Linked DNA regions of Homo sapiens: region 1 is linked to region 2. A link means that fine-mapping ties the variant in region 2 to the expression of a gene that starts in the linked region. Tissue or cell type: blood mononuclear cells. Region 2 holds a variant in brackets; the other region holds the start of a gene. All regions are shown on one strand. Distances are from middle to middle.

Evidence for each region. PIP is the estimated chance that this variant, and not a neighbour inherited with it, causes the effect.
Region 1: it holds the start of LINC02391, and the variant in region 2 is fine-mapped to the expression of LINC02391 in blood mononuclear cells (TOPMed, PIP above 0.99).

Annotation. Positions count from the first base shown.
Region 1 is chr12:92,358,837-92,366,944 of GRCh38, forward strand. It overlaps LINC02391 (long intergenic non-protein coding RNA 2391), which reads right to left and starts at 4,996. Exons shown (of 5, transcript XR_007063404.1): 1 at 4,755-4,996. The region is part of intron 1 of LOC105369902 (a long non-coding RNA gene); the gene reads left to right. RefSeq lists enhancers at 3,979-4,068, 4,549-4,598.
Region 2 is chr12:92,284,046-92,292,154 of GRCh38, forward strand. The region is part of intron 2 of LINC02391 (long intergenic non-protein coding RNA 2391); the gene reads right to left. Among named protein-coding and RNA genes, the nearest start is that of LINC02391, 76 kb to the right of the region's middle. The variant T/C (reference allele first, on the strand shown) is at 4,473.

The DNA.
Region 1 (8,108 bases), 75 kb after region 2:
AATTTTTGAGAATGAAGAGGTCAGTGGCTCTAAGCAGACAGGGCACTAGGGCAACTGGCATAAATCAGGATTGTTCTGGGCAAAAGAAGATGTATGTCCCTCCCCACTTCCATTTAACATCTCCACAGTGTCCTGCACACTTTAGACACCATTTGAATATTGGCTTATGTGAACTTAAGTCACTTCCTATTGAAAAAGTATTTCAAGCTTCACTAAAGTCGCAATTCCATTGCTTTGTCCACAACAACTGGTTGTCCCTGTTGACCCATTGCAAGAAAAATTGCAGATCAAGTCCAGAACTAAAGATACTTCTTACTTCTAGCCTTAGAAAGAAGACTCTGAGGCTACTAATAAATGCCATACTGTTTCCCTGATTCCTTAGATTCGAATAGTTCCTATTGACATCTGAAACATGAGAAGATCCTTTAGAGAACCTCAGACTTAGAATTCTGGTTTATACACATGACACATTAAGAGAAAACTAACCTACAGTGGCATTATGGCATCAACAATCAGATAGCAAATGTAGTCTGACAAAGATTTATCCCGGCACGTACTGAATTTTAGAAATACGTTCCTTTTTTCAGGATTTTGGAAATCCTAGAAAAGACCAGGATTTGGAGTCAGAACACCTATGTTTGAATCCTAACCTCCATTACTCCTTCTCTTCAAATAAAATCTCATCTGAAAATCAGGGATAATCATAGTACCTCTATCTGTAGAGCCTTTGGGAGAATTAAATGAGATAATGTATGTGAAAGTGTTCCAAACACCAAAGCTCTGTATGAATGCATATTCTCCTTTTCATTCACTATTTAAATCAACTCTTAATTCTATCTCTCTCAAGCAGCCTGAGGCTGGGTCACCAGAACACAAATGTACAGTTACAAGGCTAAAAAAAAAACCAAAAAGCAAAACAACTCATTGTTACATGATCCTTGACAACAGTTGGACAGACTTTTTCTTAAATCAAATGAAGTGTTTTGGCAGCCTGTAAGTGTAGCCTAAAGTATAGCAAGAAAAGAGAATTATTTTCCTTAGGGAGAGTAATTTTAACAGAAGTTCAACTTACACATTTTTAATATCTGTACTTCGAATGTACTGCTAAATGCAAAATGAATATAATTAGTTATGAGATATCTTGCCCTCGGCTACAGTACCCATTAAGCTTCAGCATAATATATAATTCACAACCTATTCATACTCTGTGGTACATTTCAGGACTTCCTATACTGTAGTCTCTTAAAGCAAATAGTGTATATAGTTTCAGAACCTAACAGTTGTTCCTTCATAAGGGTTAGGAGTGGATGCAGCATATCTGTGGTCTTCAAATAATTTAGCCAGTCATAAAAATTTATTATGTACAGGCACTATACCTTTTCATGTATAGGTCACTAGCATGTAAATGAAACTGGCACAACAAGGTAAATGTGTATAAAATACATCACAGAAGAGATAGATTTCTCTGATGAGCTATTTCAGTGATGCAGTAGATAGCAAATGATGATTTTGGAGTATTTTAGAGCCCCAATGTAGAATTTTCAATTTCCCCAGTTTATCCTCCAGAAATTATCACTGTGATATACCTGTGATTGCTGAAAGGCTATCGTACATCTGTAAATGGGCATGCCATTCCTGGTACCTTCTAACTTTGTGATCACTGTCCCCATGCATAAAATATGGAGTCCTGCAGAGCAGCTAGAGAAAGGGTAAGTAGCTCAGAGTCTGTATCAATGGGGAGCTGTTTAAAAATTGATGTTATCAAGTAGGTTCACACATTAAACACCCAGAAAATGTTGGGCCTCCTCCTATGTGGTTTTCCTGAATTCTTGATGCAACCTAGAAGAACTAACGTTAAAAAGTAAAGAGCACAGTACAGACAGTAAGAGTTCTGTTTGTGAAGACTAATACAGGAAGTGATGCTATGTCTGATTCTAGAATATGGTTAGAGTTTCACAGACAAGAAACAAGATCTGTAACTTGATAATTATGTAAATACAGACCTATGTGCAATCAGTCTAGAAGCTCCCTGAAGGCAGGGATGGGTTACCCATATTTTGTCTAACACTTCTTTACATTCTTCTAAGGTGCGTCTTGGACACAATAATCATTGTGAACATACTTGATAACATCAAGTATTAAATTGGGGAAATCAAAAAATACTCCAAAATCATCATTTGCTATCTACTGCATTACTGAAATATCTCATCAGAACTCTCTTTTCTGTGATTTATTTTATACACATTTACCTTGTTGTGCCAGTTTCATTTACATGCTAGTGGCCTATACATAAAAAGGTGTAGTAAGTGTTTTTTATCTAGTTGAAAAGGCTTTAAAAAAGACTTTTGTAACTTGTAACTTTTTCACTGGTTAAGTAGCATCTTAGGAAACAGGGAGAAAGCATTTCAGTTCATTATTCTTCTTCATTTACTGAGTAAAAACCATATGCCAAGTACCATACCCCTGGAGAGGGTATAAGGAGTCTGAGTGTATTACAGCTCTTACCCCCAAGAAACCACAGCAGTGTGGCTAAGTGGAAACTCAAACAAAACAGCATATCAGTTGACAAAAATTTACACATATACATTAGATTCATCGTTGCTGGATATTATAAACCATTCCTGCCATAGTTGTGAAGGACCTATTTGATCTATAGGTCTAAAATGAACCTGTTTGATATCAGAAGCATATGGCAGTAATTGACTTTCAACAATTGACTTTCCAAATTATCTATACCTAAATAATCCCAGAAAAATTATTCAATTTCAGTTATTTCAATTCAGTAGTTTGTTAGGTAGCTGAATTCTTTTTCAGTTTATGGTTGTGGTTTGTGGGTCCAGCCTACAAGAGCTTAACTAAATCTCTAAAACTCCAACATGATTATATGAGTGTATATATACACACATAAATATATGAATATATGTAATTTATATGCATATGCACACACATATATCTGAAACTTGAAATATACCATTTTTGTTCTCTCACTGTCGAATTATGAAGCACAGATCTAATGGTCAGGCTTTTCACCCAGACTACTATAGCCAGCTGTCTTTAGGAGAGTGTGGCTGAGTCCTTGTTATGCAGACAAGAAAAGGAATATTTGAAAGTGCAATGGCCCTGCAAGTGCTCAGATATTCATTGCACACCATGATGATTACATCTGAGAATCTGTTCCTCCTTTATTCTATTTTTTCTTAAGAAATGGTCTTCTCTTTAGGAATGAATATGTGGAAGCAAAATGACTAGTTTATAACAGGCAGTACTCAAAAATGTTGTGAGTACAATGCAGAAACCTAACAGTGAAATTGCAAACTGAGAAAAGGAATCAAACAAGGGCAGAAAACAAGCGTTAAGGCTCGAGAATAAATTACGCATAGGACAAATTGGTACTCATTTTGAGAAGGAGAGGAGAGGTGAATTTAAACAGTCAAGTAATAAAAAGTCATTGTTCGGTAGAGGCTGTCTAGTGTAATGTTTAACAGCATGGACTGTATCCCAAGAATTGAGTCTGAAACCTGAATCTCCCACATACGAGTTCTGTGACATTGAGCCAGATCTTAAAGTCTCTAAATTTCTCTTTTGTTTTGTTTTGTTTTGCATGTAGGGAGAGGAGTATATACTTCCTAAGGTTGTGAAAAGGATGGTTCATAATAAAAGTATGTAGCGTTATTGAGTACATACTATGTGTAGGAATGTTACATGAATAAATTTATGAACCTTCATATTAACCCAATCTGGCAAGTACCTGCACTATTATCACTATTCCTATTTAGTATTTAAGAAAACTCAGGTTTGACTGGATTAGGTGACTTGTCCAAAGGGATACAGTTCAGATTTTTTTTGTTTTTGTTTTTGTTTTATGTAGCATAGAGACTTTTTTCAACTTTTAGATTCAGTGGGTATACATGCAGGTTTGTTACCTGGGTATATTTCATGATTAAAGCTGAGGTTTGAACATGGCAGAGTGATTCTAAAGCCCGTGGTTAAAGGACTATGCTGTCATATTGGCATGTAAAGTGCTTATCATAGCTTAGCATAGAGTAAGGCTTCCACATGCAAATCAAAAGAGAAACATTAAACATTAGCTGAAGAGGAAAACCAAATCACCCACCAGGAGGAAATTGACCTGGCCCTTTCTCCCAAGTGTATCACATGATATGATGTGTGCAGGTGTCAGATGATGCTGAGATGGCCGACAGAGCTCAATTCAGAAACAAGTGATGAGCTCCTTAACAAATTCCCTCAGGAGAGAACTGCCTCCCCTCCCCTTTCAAACGAGGCTGACCTTGAAGTTGTGCCTAAATTGCTCACCACAATCTCAGGCTCAACTTGCTAACTCATCTATCCAAAACACATGCATCCCCGACTTCTCCCTATTTCATGGGGTATCAAAAATAGAGACTTGAACCTCATAAAGTTAGTACAGGCCGGGGTGTTCACCATCTTCATAGCTGATTTACAGTTGCTTTATTAAACTGCCTCTGATCTGGTCAGCAGGCTATGAATGTGAACACCTAGTTAGAGCTGACCTTGAATCCCATTGGAACAGTAGACTTCTTTATTACATTTGAAAACCTAAAAATGTTCAAGGGGAGGTGGAAGGGAGGAGAGGCAGGCAGAGGGTGCTAGGTGCTTTGTTCAACCACCATGGTTCCCTCTGTCGAGATGGAAGATGGCTGTTGCTTAAAGCTTCTGCCCATCTTTGTCCTCTGGAAATATTTGTATTATACAAATCAAAGAATGGAACGCACCTGCCTCCTCCTCATTCTTCTCCCCTCCCCGACACTGGAATGAATGCATACTCTTCACACAGGACCCACAGGAAACCTGTTACCCCAAGTAACTGTTGCATTCTCATGTGTTCAGTCACAGGAAGAATTTCAGTTTCTCTCTTCCCCACGATTGGAGATGAGGCTGAGGTCACGGGAGAGAAAGAGCCCTGTCTTGTCTCCCAACAAGAGGGGTCTGTGCAGCTGCTGGGCCCACAGCAGACAGAAGGCACGCGGCAGCTGAGGCTCTTTAGAAGGCTTCCCACCCACTTCCTGAGTCTGGCTTTGATTTCTTAAAGGGCAGATGCACTTATTCCAGAGTCGCTCCCTGATTCAGCTGTCGGGGGGAGGGTGGAATAAAAAGCTAAAGCAACCATTTCCTTTTCTGTAGCTCCTTTGCTTTGTCTCAGATCCTCTTTTCTGAGTTATCTGCTACTAAGTCTGTCTCTCCTTCCGCTCAGAGCAGCAGTGGCTGAGTTTTGTCGAGTGCTAGATAATCACTGATCTTAATTATAAACAGCCTCAGCTCAGAGGAATGGTTTTGATAGGAAAGTCAACACCAGGACGCAAGATGGGTAGGTAGCAAAATGGAACCCAAGCCAGTTTTCCAATAAAAAACAGACAAAATATATTTATAAGTAAGATTCAATTCATCCTCCACGCAGTAGCAGCCTGGAGGCTCCTTGTGAACTGACCTCTGTCTACTGTCCCCTTTAAACTTTTTTTTTTTTGATACGGAGTCTCACTCTGTCGCCCAGGCTGAAGTGCAGTGGTACAATCTCGCCTCCCTACAACCTCCACTTCCTGGGGTCAAGCAATTCTCCCGCCTCGGCCTCCCGAGTAGCTGGGATTACAAGCACGCATCACCACGCCTGGCTAATTTTTTTTGTATTTTTAGTGGAGACGGGGTTTCGCCATGTTAGCCAGGCTGGTCTCGAACTCCTGACCTCAAGTGATCCGCCTGCCTCGGCCCCCCAAAGTGCTGGGATTACAGGCTTGAGCCACCATGCCTGGCCACCCCTTTAAATTTTATGCTTCAGTAATAGTGTTGATTTTACCTCCAAAATACAGAGCTGTTTCATGCTTCTGTGCCTTTGTGGACTCTTCCCTCTGCCAGAAATGCCTTCTTACTGTGTCTTCCTGGAAATATCTTATTTGACTTTTAAAAACTGGTGCAGACATCACCGCTTCATCTCCCTCCAGTGTTTTTCATTTAATTGGTCTGGGATGTGGCCTGAGCCCTGGGAGTTTTAAGTGCTCCCCAGGTGATTCTAATCTGCACCAGAGTTTGCCAATCACTGCTTAAGGCCAGCAGTTTTCAGACTTGAGCAGGCATCAGAAACAGCTGGAGGGCTTGTTAAGGCACAGATTGCAGGGTCCACCCCCTGAGTGTAGAATTCAGTAGCTCTGGAGAATTTGTATTTCTTTCTTATTTTGTTTTCTCTTTTGTTTTGTTTTGTTTTGTTTTGTTTTACTTTTATGTTTTTGGATCTTGTTGCATACCAAGTTTTTTTTGTTGTTGTTTTTTGTTTTTTAAGGGATTTGCTGATGTTTTTACTATTAGTATTCACATTATTTCCTTTTTTAAAAAAATTTATTTAAAACAGACAAAAATTTTATCTATTTATGGTGTACAACAATGTTTTAATATAGGTACACATTGTGGAATGGCTACATCAAGCTAACTAATATACGCATTACCTTACATGCATGTCATTTTATTTTATTTATTTATTTATTTATTTATTTATTTTTTGCAGTGAGAATTTGCCTTTCTAACAAGTTCCCAGATAAGGCTGATTCTGCTGGTCCTGGGATCAGGTTTTGAGAATCAATGCTCTATTCAAACTCGCTAGCTTGCACAGGTTCCTTACATTGCACTTGTCACCCTGCATTGTCATCCACTTATTTGCATGCCTATTTCTGTCTTTTGAAGGTAAGGACTTTAGCTTTTTTATCACATTACAGAGCACTGCACCTGGTGTATAGTAGATGCTCAACACATGATCACTTAATGAGTAAATATTCAGGGTCTAGTTGTCACAGAGAAAGAAAGTCATGTACAAAATTTATGTCAACTTTTAAACATAAATTATTTAATCCAATAAATATCCCATGCCTCTAAATTTAAATCTAGAAAGGAGTTCTCTAAGCCTCTATGAATGACATCTTGGATTTTGGTGACAGGATTGTGTTGGCAAAGTACTCCTCAGTACACGAGGATAAAAAGGCCCTGTGCAAAAGCAGATTGGATTACATTTACAACAACAACACCTCTTTTTAAACTGACATTTAATGATTATCTCTATCAATAAAGGCCTTTTAAGAGCTCTCCATAAAATGTTGTGAAAAATGAGAACATTTAAAATACAGACAAACAATGGGCCCCATTCATACAGCTTCTTCACATTATTTCTCCTGTATCATGGATCTCAACCAGGCTCACTCACCCTTCTCCAGTGAAGTTGGCACATGTTAACCATATTGATCGTCTGATTACAAATGTAGACTGTGGCAGGGAGTATTTACAAAAGGAACCCATTTGTCCCTGTTACTTGTATGTAGATATCGGACTTAATACACACTCAACTACAAAGCAATAGAACCAGGTAGTAAAATGTTACTCCCAAGGAGATTAGACTCCTATACAGAAAAATGATTTCATTGTTTCATATAACCATATAAAGTAAGTCCAAAGAGATGTTTTTAAAAGTTTCCTAATCCTTACTAATTTCTTAAATACCTACTCCTCAAGAAGAATAAATTCTCTCTCTATTCATTGATCCATAGAATATTTCTAAAAACCTAATAATGTGTTGGCATAGGTCTTTCTGAACCCAAAACCCAGACCTATGTCTTTCTGAACAAAATATGTGATATTGTGTGTGTGTGTGTGCGTGTTGCTTGCTGTCCATTTCAGCAGCCTTCTACTTTGATGACAACCTGATTATTCTGGAAAAAAGCAGTTGCTGTCCTTAGTGGTGCAGCATGTAGTTATTTGGAATTTCAGTAGTATCCAGGTAACATTTTTCATTGAGTCAGTGGGGAAACAGAAGATGAGAAACTCACCCTTCTGAGTTTCTGGTCAATATTTCTTGATTGGAGCTCTGGGTCTCTGGGTCCTCTCTAATTGTTACCTAGAGACTGGATCTTTAGATTATAAAAATATCAAAATACCTGGATATTGACTTTTTGAATTCAGTATATTGCAATTGAATTCCACTTCAACAATAGCAGGTGGCCAATGGGTTGAGTATGATCGAATCAGGAATGAAAGATTCTGTAGACTGTACCTTTCTTTTCAAAAATAAAATTTTGAAAAGTACAGATTTGCCT
Region 2 (8,109 bases):
AAGAAGTTTTGCAACTAGAGATGAGGAAAATGGACTCAGACTGAATCTATAAAAGAGATTTTCATCAGACTATGGGAGGATAAAGATGGGACAGCAGAATCCCTGCAGCTTACTTGGAGTTTGGGCTCAGTTCTGGCTTACTTAGGGTTTGGCCAAACTTTAGTAGTCTATCAAACCTGCAGCTTACCCAGGTCACAATTGAGGTGAGCCCCAAAACTTCACAAGGAGCATTTTGAATCCATCAGTTGAATTAAACAAACAAACAAACAAACAAACCTGAAAGGTATCCCCCTATGGGCTTTGCCCTAAAGAAAATAATGGTTTGTAAGACTAGAGGTGGCATTGACTCATAATCCACCTGAGTTAACTCCCCTCACATTGACAGAAGAGGACTTCTTCATATAAAAATACTCTCGGCCAGGCGCAGTGGCTCACACCTGTAATCTCAGCACTTTAGGAGGCTGAGGAGGGTGGATCACCTAAGGGCAGGAGTTCGAGACCAGTGTGGCCAATATGGTGAAACCCCCGTCTCTACTAAAAATACAAAAATTAGCTGGGCATGGTGGCACGCACCTGTAAACCCAGCTACTTAGGAGGCTGAGGCAGAAGAATTGCTTGAACCTGGGAGGCGGAGGCTGCAGCGAGCTGAGATCGTGCCATTGCACTCCAGCCTGGGAGATAGAGTGAGACTTCATCTCAAAAAAAAAAAAAAATTCTCTATGGGAATTTTGTGTTCTCTTATCCTTAAGGGCCTGCCCATCTTAATCTATACCAGGACACAAATTTATCAACAGCTGGAGCCTGGATTTGAACCCCGGCCAATTTTTGGTGACGATCTAAAGCTTACCCTGCCTGTAGTAGAGAGGAGACAATGTTAGCATTTCTGTATTGAAGCTTTGAACCAGAGGATTGACATTAAGTTAGTCTGATACTGACCTCAACATTTCTTCAGACTGAAACTCCCAAATGAATAAAAAGACAATGCCTATGTCATTGCTCCTGTTGTTTCTGTTAGCATAACATCTTTGATGCATGTTTGCACACTTCTAGACTGTTGTCCTCTCTGGGCCATCCCAGTGGCTGAATCAATGGCAGAAGTTATCAGAGGGAGTGGCCTTCAGATTGCTGGCCAATAGAGGGAAAGAGGAGACAAGGAGAAGTCACAGATAGCAACTGCCTCTGGCACATAGCAAAACAATTTATCTTGAAATCAATGTATCAACTAGCTGCATAAATTACATAAATTATGTTCTGGTTGTCCACATCATCTTCAAAACAATAATCACAAAGATAATAATAATAATAAGAGCTAGGACTTAATCATCCAGCAGTGTCCTAAAAGTATTCATTCATTTAATCTTCATAACAACCCCATAAATACTGCTATTATCCGCATGTGAGGAAACTGAGGCACAGAGAGGTTAAGTAACTTGTCCACGTTAGGCCACTAGAATGTGGCAGAGCTCAAATACTAAAGATGCATCCTGTTGACAACATCATGTAGGTACCTGTGGTCAGCAAGGTAATGGCCCCTCAAGGATGTCCATATCTAGAATCTGTGGATATATTATATTACACGCCAAAGGAGAAATGAAGTTGTAGATGGAATTAAGCATGATAATCAGCTGACCTAAAATAAGATTAATCTGGATTTTCTGGGTAGAATCACAAGGGTTCCTTAAATGTAGAAGAGGGAGGCAGAGGAGTCAATGTCAGAGTGGTATAATGTGAGAAAACCTTGATTGGCCATTGCTGGCTTTGAAGATGGGAAGAGGCCATGAGCCCAGCAATGCAGGCAGCCTCTAGATTCTAGAAAAGTCAAGAAAATAGATTCTCCCCTAAAGCCCACAGGAAGAATGCAGCCCTGACAACACGTTAGTTTTAGTCCAGTGAGACCCATTTTGGATTTCTGACCTCCAGAACCATAAATTTCACATAATAAATCTGTGTTGTTTTAAGCCACTAAGTCTGGACTAATTTACATAGCAGCAATAAGAAACTGAGGCAGTACCTTATTCATAAGTTGCTTTGGATAACATAGAATTTTTTAAGTGAGAGCTAGAAGGCATCTTTAAAGTGGGTATAACTTAACTATTCTCACTTTAGAAGTGAACGGAAATGACTTTTCTGAAGGTTCCCCTCTCCTTGAAGCCTAAAATTACGTGATTCAAAACAAAGACCCCTATGAGTCTACTCATTTGAACGGGCATATAAATGACTTAGAAAAAATACAAGAGCATCTTGCTTATAATACTGCCTGTGTAGTAATGGATTACCTTGAGTCTAGGTTCAGCCTACACTCCTGGGAGCCTCTCAGAACTCCATCTTAGCCAGGTTCCTCCTAAGAAGGGGATGTAAGAAGGAGGCAAAATGAGGGGCCTTGGCATCACGTAGAAGTGGGCTTACATCCAGCCATGCCACTGACTGGCTCGACCTTGAAAAGCCACTTCACCTCCCTGAACCTTTTTTTTCTTTGATTCGTTGATTATAAAATCAAGTTTGATTTGCTTATAAAATCAATGGTATTCAACTCATGAATTCAAATCCAGGGTGTAGACAAAGTCTTCAATACACTTTAGTTCCCCTTCCTGTGCTTTCCTCCATTCTTCTTGAGTCACAGCCAAGGATGGTCATGCTTTTTTTCTGGTCAAGGAGTGAGAATTCTTTTTGTCTTGTGCAAACTCAAGGCAGAAAGTATCTTTATTTCACAGGAGGCTGAAAATTCACAGTAATTGGGGAATAACATTTAAGATATTTCCTTTGTTCTTTTTTTCTGTTTTACTTTCTCCTCTCTTTTACAACACAGGCACTGTTCCCTTGGCATTTGCAAATTTACTTTTTTACTTCTGCAGATGTAGGTGGATCGATTCAAGAAGAGAAACGGTAGCACAAAAGAGAAGAATTTTCCCAGTGCAGAATTCATTTCGGAAAGGAGTGTTTTTCATAATTAGCTCAACATTTGCATGTTTATGAAGTCCCAGACACTGTTCTACATATTTCACGTGGGTTAATCCATTTAATCCTCACAACACCATAAAGTAAGTACTTACATTAGTAGACAAGAAAACTATGAGGCACAGAAAAGTTAAGCAAATTATCCGAGGTCACATAGCAAAGTGGCAGTATTAACATGTGAACCTAGGCAAATGTAGCTTCAGAACGCAGGCTCTCTACCACTTCAACAGCTTATTTACCTCCTTTTCCCAGGAGCTCATTCTATAAAAATTGAGCAAGATAGATGGGAAAAACATATTAGAAGAAAATGAATCACGAAGAGCATCTGAAATAGGTATGGGCTGGGCACGGTGGCTCACGCCTGTAATCCCAGCACTTTGGGAGGCCATGGTGAGCATATTGCTTGAGCTCAGGAGTTCAAGACAGCCTGGGCAACATAGTGAAACCCTGTCTCAACAAAAAATATTAATAAAAGAATTAGCTGGGTGTGGTGGGTTGGGAGGCTGAGGCGGGAGGATGGCTTGAGCCCAGGAGGTGGAGGTAGAAGTGAGCCAAGATGGCACCACTGCACTCCAGCCTGGGTGACAGAGTCAGACCCCGTCTCAAGAGAAAAAAAATAAAAGTTAAAGGAAAAAAACCAGTCTCCAACTGATTTGATAAGAGATCAAATGACCCCACTTCATTTTAAAAATTTAGAAAATAAAAAAGAGAAATAGGTATGGAGCTTACACCATTGAAATCTGATGCTGTTTTCAAATATCCATAATAAAAACACTAATGTCTTAAATATGGGGAGGTAACTCAGTCTAACCAGCCTTGTTTTTCTAAGTAATGGCGTCAGAAAGCCAACTAAGAGTCCTGAGAAAGGGTTTGGGGTTTGCTATTCGTTCCCAGTGCTAAAATTCCTTGACCAAAAACAATCTCAAGATTTCCAAGGGTGGCCAAAATATCAAGCCTGCTTTCTCTGAGGGAGGAAATATTTCCATTTCACGGAGATGAAGTGGACATTTTCTCAGTTGAGTGTTTGATAGTGTTTCTTTACTGGAAATAACTACACGTCTTCTTTGAGAACCACACTTCTAGGTTTTTTTGTTTTGTTTTGAGACGGAGTCTTGCTCTGTTGCCCAGGCTCTGGAGTGCAGTGGCGATCTCGGCTCACTGCAAGCTCCGCCTCCCGGGTTCACACCATTGTCCTGCTTCAGCCTCCAGAGTAGCTGGGACTACAGGTGCCCACCACCATGCCCGGATAATTTTTTGTATTTTTAGTAGAGACGGGGTTTCACCGTGTTAGCCAGGCTGGTCTCGATCTCCTGACCTCGTGATCCGCCCGCCTCGGCCTCCCAGAGTGCTGGGATTACAGGCGTGAGCCACCGCCCGGCCTTTTTTTTTTTTTTAATCTAAAATAAGGCCACTAGTACTACTTCCTTCCTCCCCTTTCAATGCTAAAGGAGAAGAGATCAACTCATTTAGTTCTCTAACTTACCTAGAAGCTGAGCTAGGATTCGAATCCAGTTCCC[T/C]AACTCCTCTTCTGGTTCTCCTGCCACTCAGCCACATGGATTTCTTTCTCTTACACACAGGCTCTTTTTGGCCACGGTAAACACACTGACCTTTGAAATATGGAAAGAAAAGCGCTTTGAAATAAAACTGGCACAAACAGCAGTCAGACAGCCGTCATCTGGAGGCTGAAACAAAGAGGAGCATAGTTTTCAAGCTGTCTTCGTAATTACACGAAGCAGTTATCACTCAGGCCCCAGTCTGCGCATTGCCCCCCAAACAAACAGCCGAGGGCTGAGAGAGCACATAGGCCACTTTGTTGCGCCAGCATACTGGGGAGTGGAGAGCCCCCCAGCTAAAATCACATGTGGCTTGGAGTGTTTTCCAGGACTTCAGGCTTTTTCCTTTCTTCCTTCCCCATTAAACCCCTCTGCTCTTCTTGGCAAAGGCCTTCAGGTGAGGTAAGCGCCAATTAACAACAAAGAGCTTGATGTATTTCAAGTTTATGGCTTAGAGCTGTGTTCTCATGAAATATATTCTCCTCTGGTCCAGAAGCCTTGATGGGCAGAGAGCAAGAATTCTGAGTGTGGTTGAAATTTGGTTCATTTTTGCTACTGCCCTAAAAGTGATTTCCCTTTTGGGGGTTTGCTCAAATAGAAAGCAACGAAAACAAACCCAGAAAAGGGCAAAACCAATTCTGAAAACTTCAGCTGCAAAGATAACTGGAGCAGAAGGCTCAGCAAATTGGGTTTTTTGGGGAAAAAAAAATGGCCTTAAATTTCTTATGGGTTCTTTGGAAATAAATATAGCCAGACTTTGGAATGAGTAGGAGGGATGAGAATATCCAATCCAAAGGATCTCTAAAGCCTTTTCCAGCTTCCAAATTTGGATTTGATTTTTCTATCCTGGGAATGGTTTTAATCATGTTACAATCATTTGAGCGTTATCACGTCAATTTATAAAAAATATTTTTGTGAATTGTTTTTAGGCTACAGTGATATGAGATCTGACCAATAAAATGATCTCATTGGACATCTCAGAGCCCTTAAAGAGCAAGAGGTTTGGCAATAGGAATATAAATAGGTTAAAATATATTCCAAAACAATTCCTCTAATCATTAATTGTACTCCATTGTTTAATATTTTCAGAGCCTACTGAATTTAGCAAAGGGAAAGACAGATGCATATTAAAATGCATGCAAATGCTACACACAAGCCACATTTTAATATATTGTTTTGCATTCATAATTTTAGTCTTGTGATTTGTATTTTCATTTGCTTGGGAACAAAGACTTTCTTTTTTCCGCACTTGGGAAACAAGGCAAGACTTGTTTCTGCCAGCATCTTAATAGTATTCCTGAAAAAGCAGCAAACTTAATGGTTCAGGAACTACTCTCCACCACCTGCTTACTGGCCTCTAACAGGGGCTGCATTTACAATGCATTGAAAAGGTGAAAATACGCAATCAATCAGTTGCTTTGTTGCAGAATGGTGAGCAATCATATTTTTGTTGTATTAAAACTGAACAGAATCATTTTTTTAAAAAAATGTAAACTGCTTAAACGTACAGCCTCTTTTCAGCTACAGGGAGTGGCAGAGTGACTTGTGCATTCACCAAATTTCATTCCTTTTTAATCTGGGGACACATACAGACCGTATTGCTCAGCTTCCTTTTCAATTAGGTGATTTCTGGCAATGGAATGTGGGGCAAAATAATGCTTACAATCTCCATTCAAGTCTAGCCCCTTGAATCTATGGTGCATTTCCCTATACTTGTGCTTTTCCCGTGCTCCTGACCTTCTGGCAAGATACAGAGGATCAGGTGGAGAGCATCAAGGGCACTAGAGGAGCCTCTTGATGATGGGAGGCTGGGTTTTCAAATAAAAAGCATGGAACAGAATCTCTGACCCATCTGTCTCCTTTGACCAATGACTCACAAAAAACTATGACTCTCAATCACTGTGTGGTAGTTAGTCTCTAATGGTCCCTATCTGCTGTATTCATACCCTTGTGTGTCCACCTCCTACATGCTACCAGGATCTGTGTGACCAATGACATATGGTAGAAATGATGGGATGTTACTTCCAAGATTGAGCTATAAAAGACTGCAGTTTCCATCTTGGGTGCTTTCTCATTCGTTCTCTCTCTTGGATTACTCTCTCTGGGGGAAGCCAGCTGTCATGTTTTGAGGTCACTCTAACAGCCTGTGGAGATGCTCACATGGTGAGGAATAGGGACCTGCCTCCAACAGCCAGCAAGAAATTGAGGCTTGCCAATAATCAGGTGAGGAAGCTCGGAAAAAAATTCTCCAGCCTAGTTGATCCTGTAGCTCCAGTAAATAGTTTGAGTACCACTTTGTGAGAAACATTGAGCTAGAATTACCTAGTTAAACTGCTCCTGGATTCTTGACCCCCAGAAACTGTGTGAGATAAATGTTTGTTGTTTTAAGTAGCTAAGTTTTAGGGTAATTTGTTACACAGCAATAAATAGTACATAACTATGAACAGGACTGTAAGGTTCAAAGGGTGAAGACTTTGGTTTATTCTTGAAATTTCACCGCCTAATGAAGTGCCTGGATGAGAGCAGGCTTGAATAAACAATGAATGTGGTTTTCAGTAAGATTAATAGTGTGGTTCTTTACATATGATGTGCAAAGTCAACATGTTAGAGCAGCTACCACTTTAAGGCTAGACAGTGAGGTTACTACATATCTCATCCTGGAAGATGGAATCAACTGCACCTAGATTCAGAAAAATCTAGAATCACATTTCTATCAAATGCATAGATAACAGTTTCCAAAACGTTTGTATAAAGAAGAGAAAAACTCAGCTATCTAGTTCTGTTTGTGTGTTCAGATTATCACGCTTATGCTTGTACAGACTAGGTTCTCTTCTAATAGCTACACATGTTAATTTATTTAATCCTTACAACAATCCAGTAAAGAGCATGTTGTTATTCTTCTGATTTTAATGATGAGGAAACAATATGCTCTGGACTTGCATATTCCTAGGATCTTGAAGTTACCCATTATACTCCATTGCCCTCTCATTTTAACTCATCAAAGAGAACAGAGCTGAAAAGTACAGGAAAGGGTCACTGAATGGATGAAGTGGATGAAGAGATAGCCCTGTAAGAACAGAAAAGAATAATTAAAACTTTTAGATTTGACAAACCCAGGAAGCACTATGATCAAAATTTATGAAATCCTGAAGGAAATGCATTTATTTACCCAAACTGATACACATCACAGGAATGGGGCCCGCCTTGATGTTTATTAGAGATCATTTAGGAGAACCTGAATGCATGCTGCTTCCAAATGATGGGATATACGTTCTGCCTTCATTCCAGCTGCTTAGAGACAAGACCCACCATCCCAGAGACTGCAGTGAAGAGGAAAAGAATATCCCAAACCACAGGCAACCACCTCCTTGTGGCGCAGCCAAGAGCGGTGTGCTTGGCCTCCCTGCTAATTAGCAAAAACCCTCACCAATTCCTTCCAATGCTTGAAAATCAATGCTAGCCTAAAAAAAAAAAAAAAAAAAATCAGAACTGGGCCAAAGAAGCACTGGGAATGAGTAGACATCTCTGTGTCTGCCTCTCCTGATAGTCCCGTTTTTGCTTGTTTTTCATGGGAACATGTGTATATGGTGACAACTCAGGG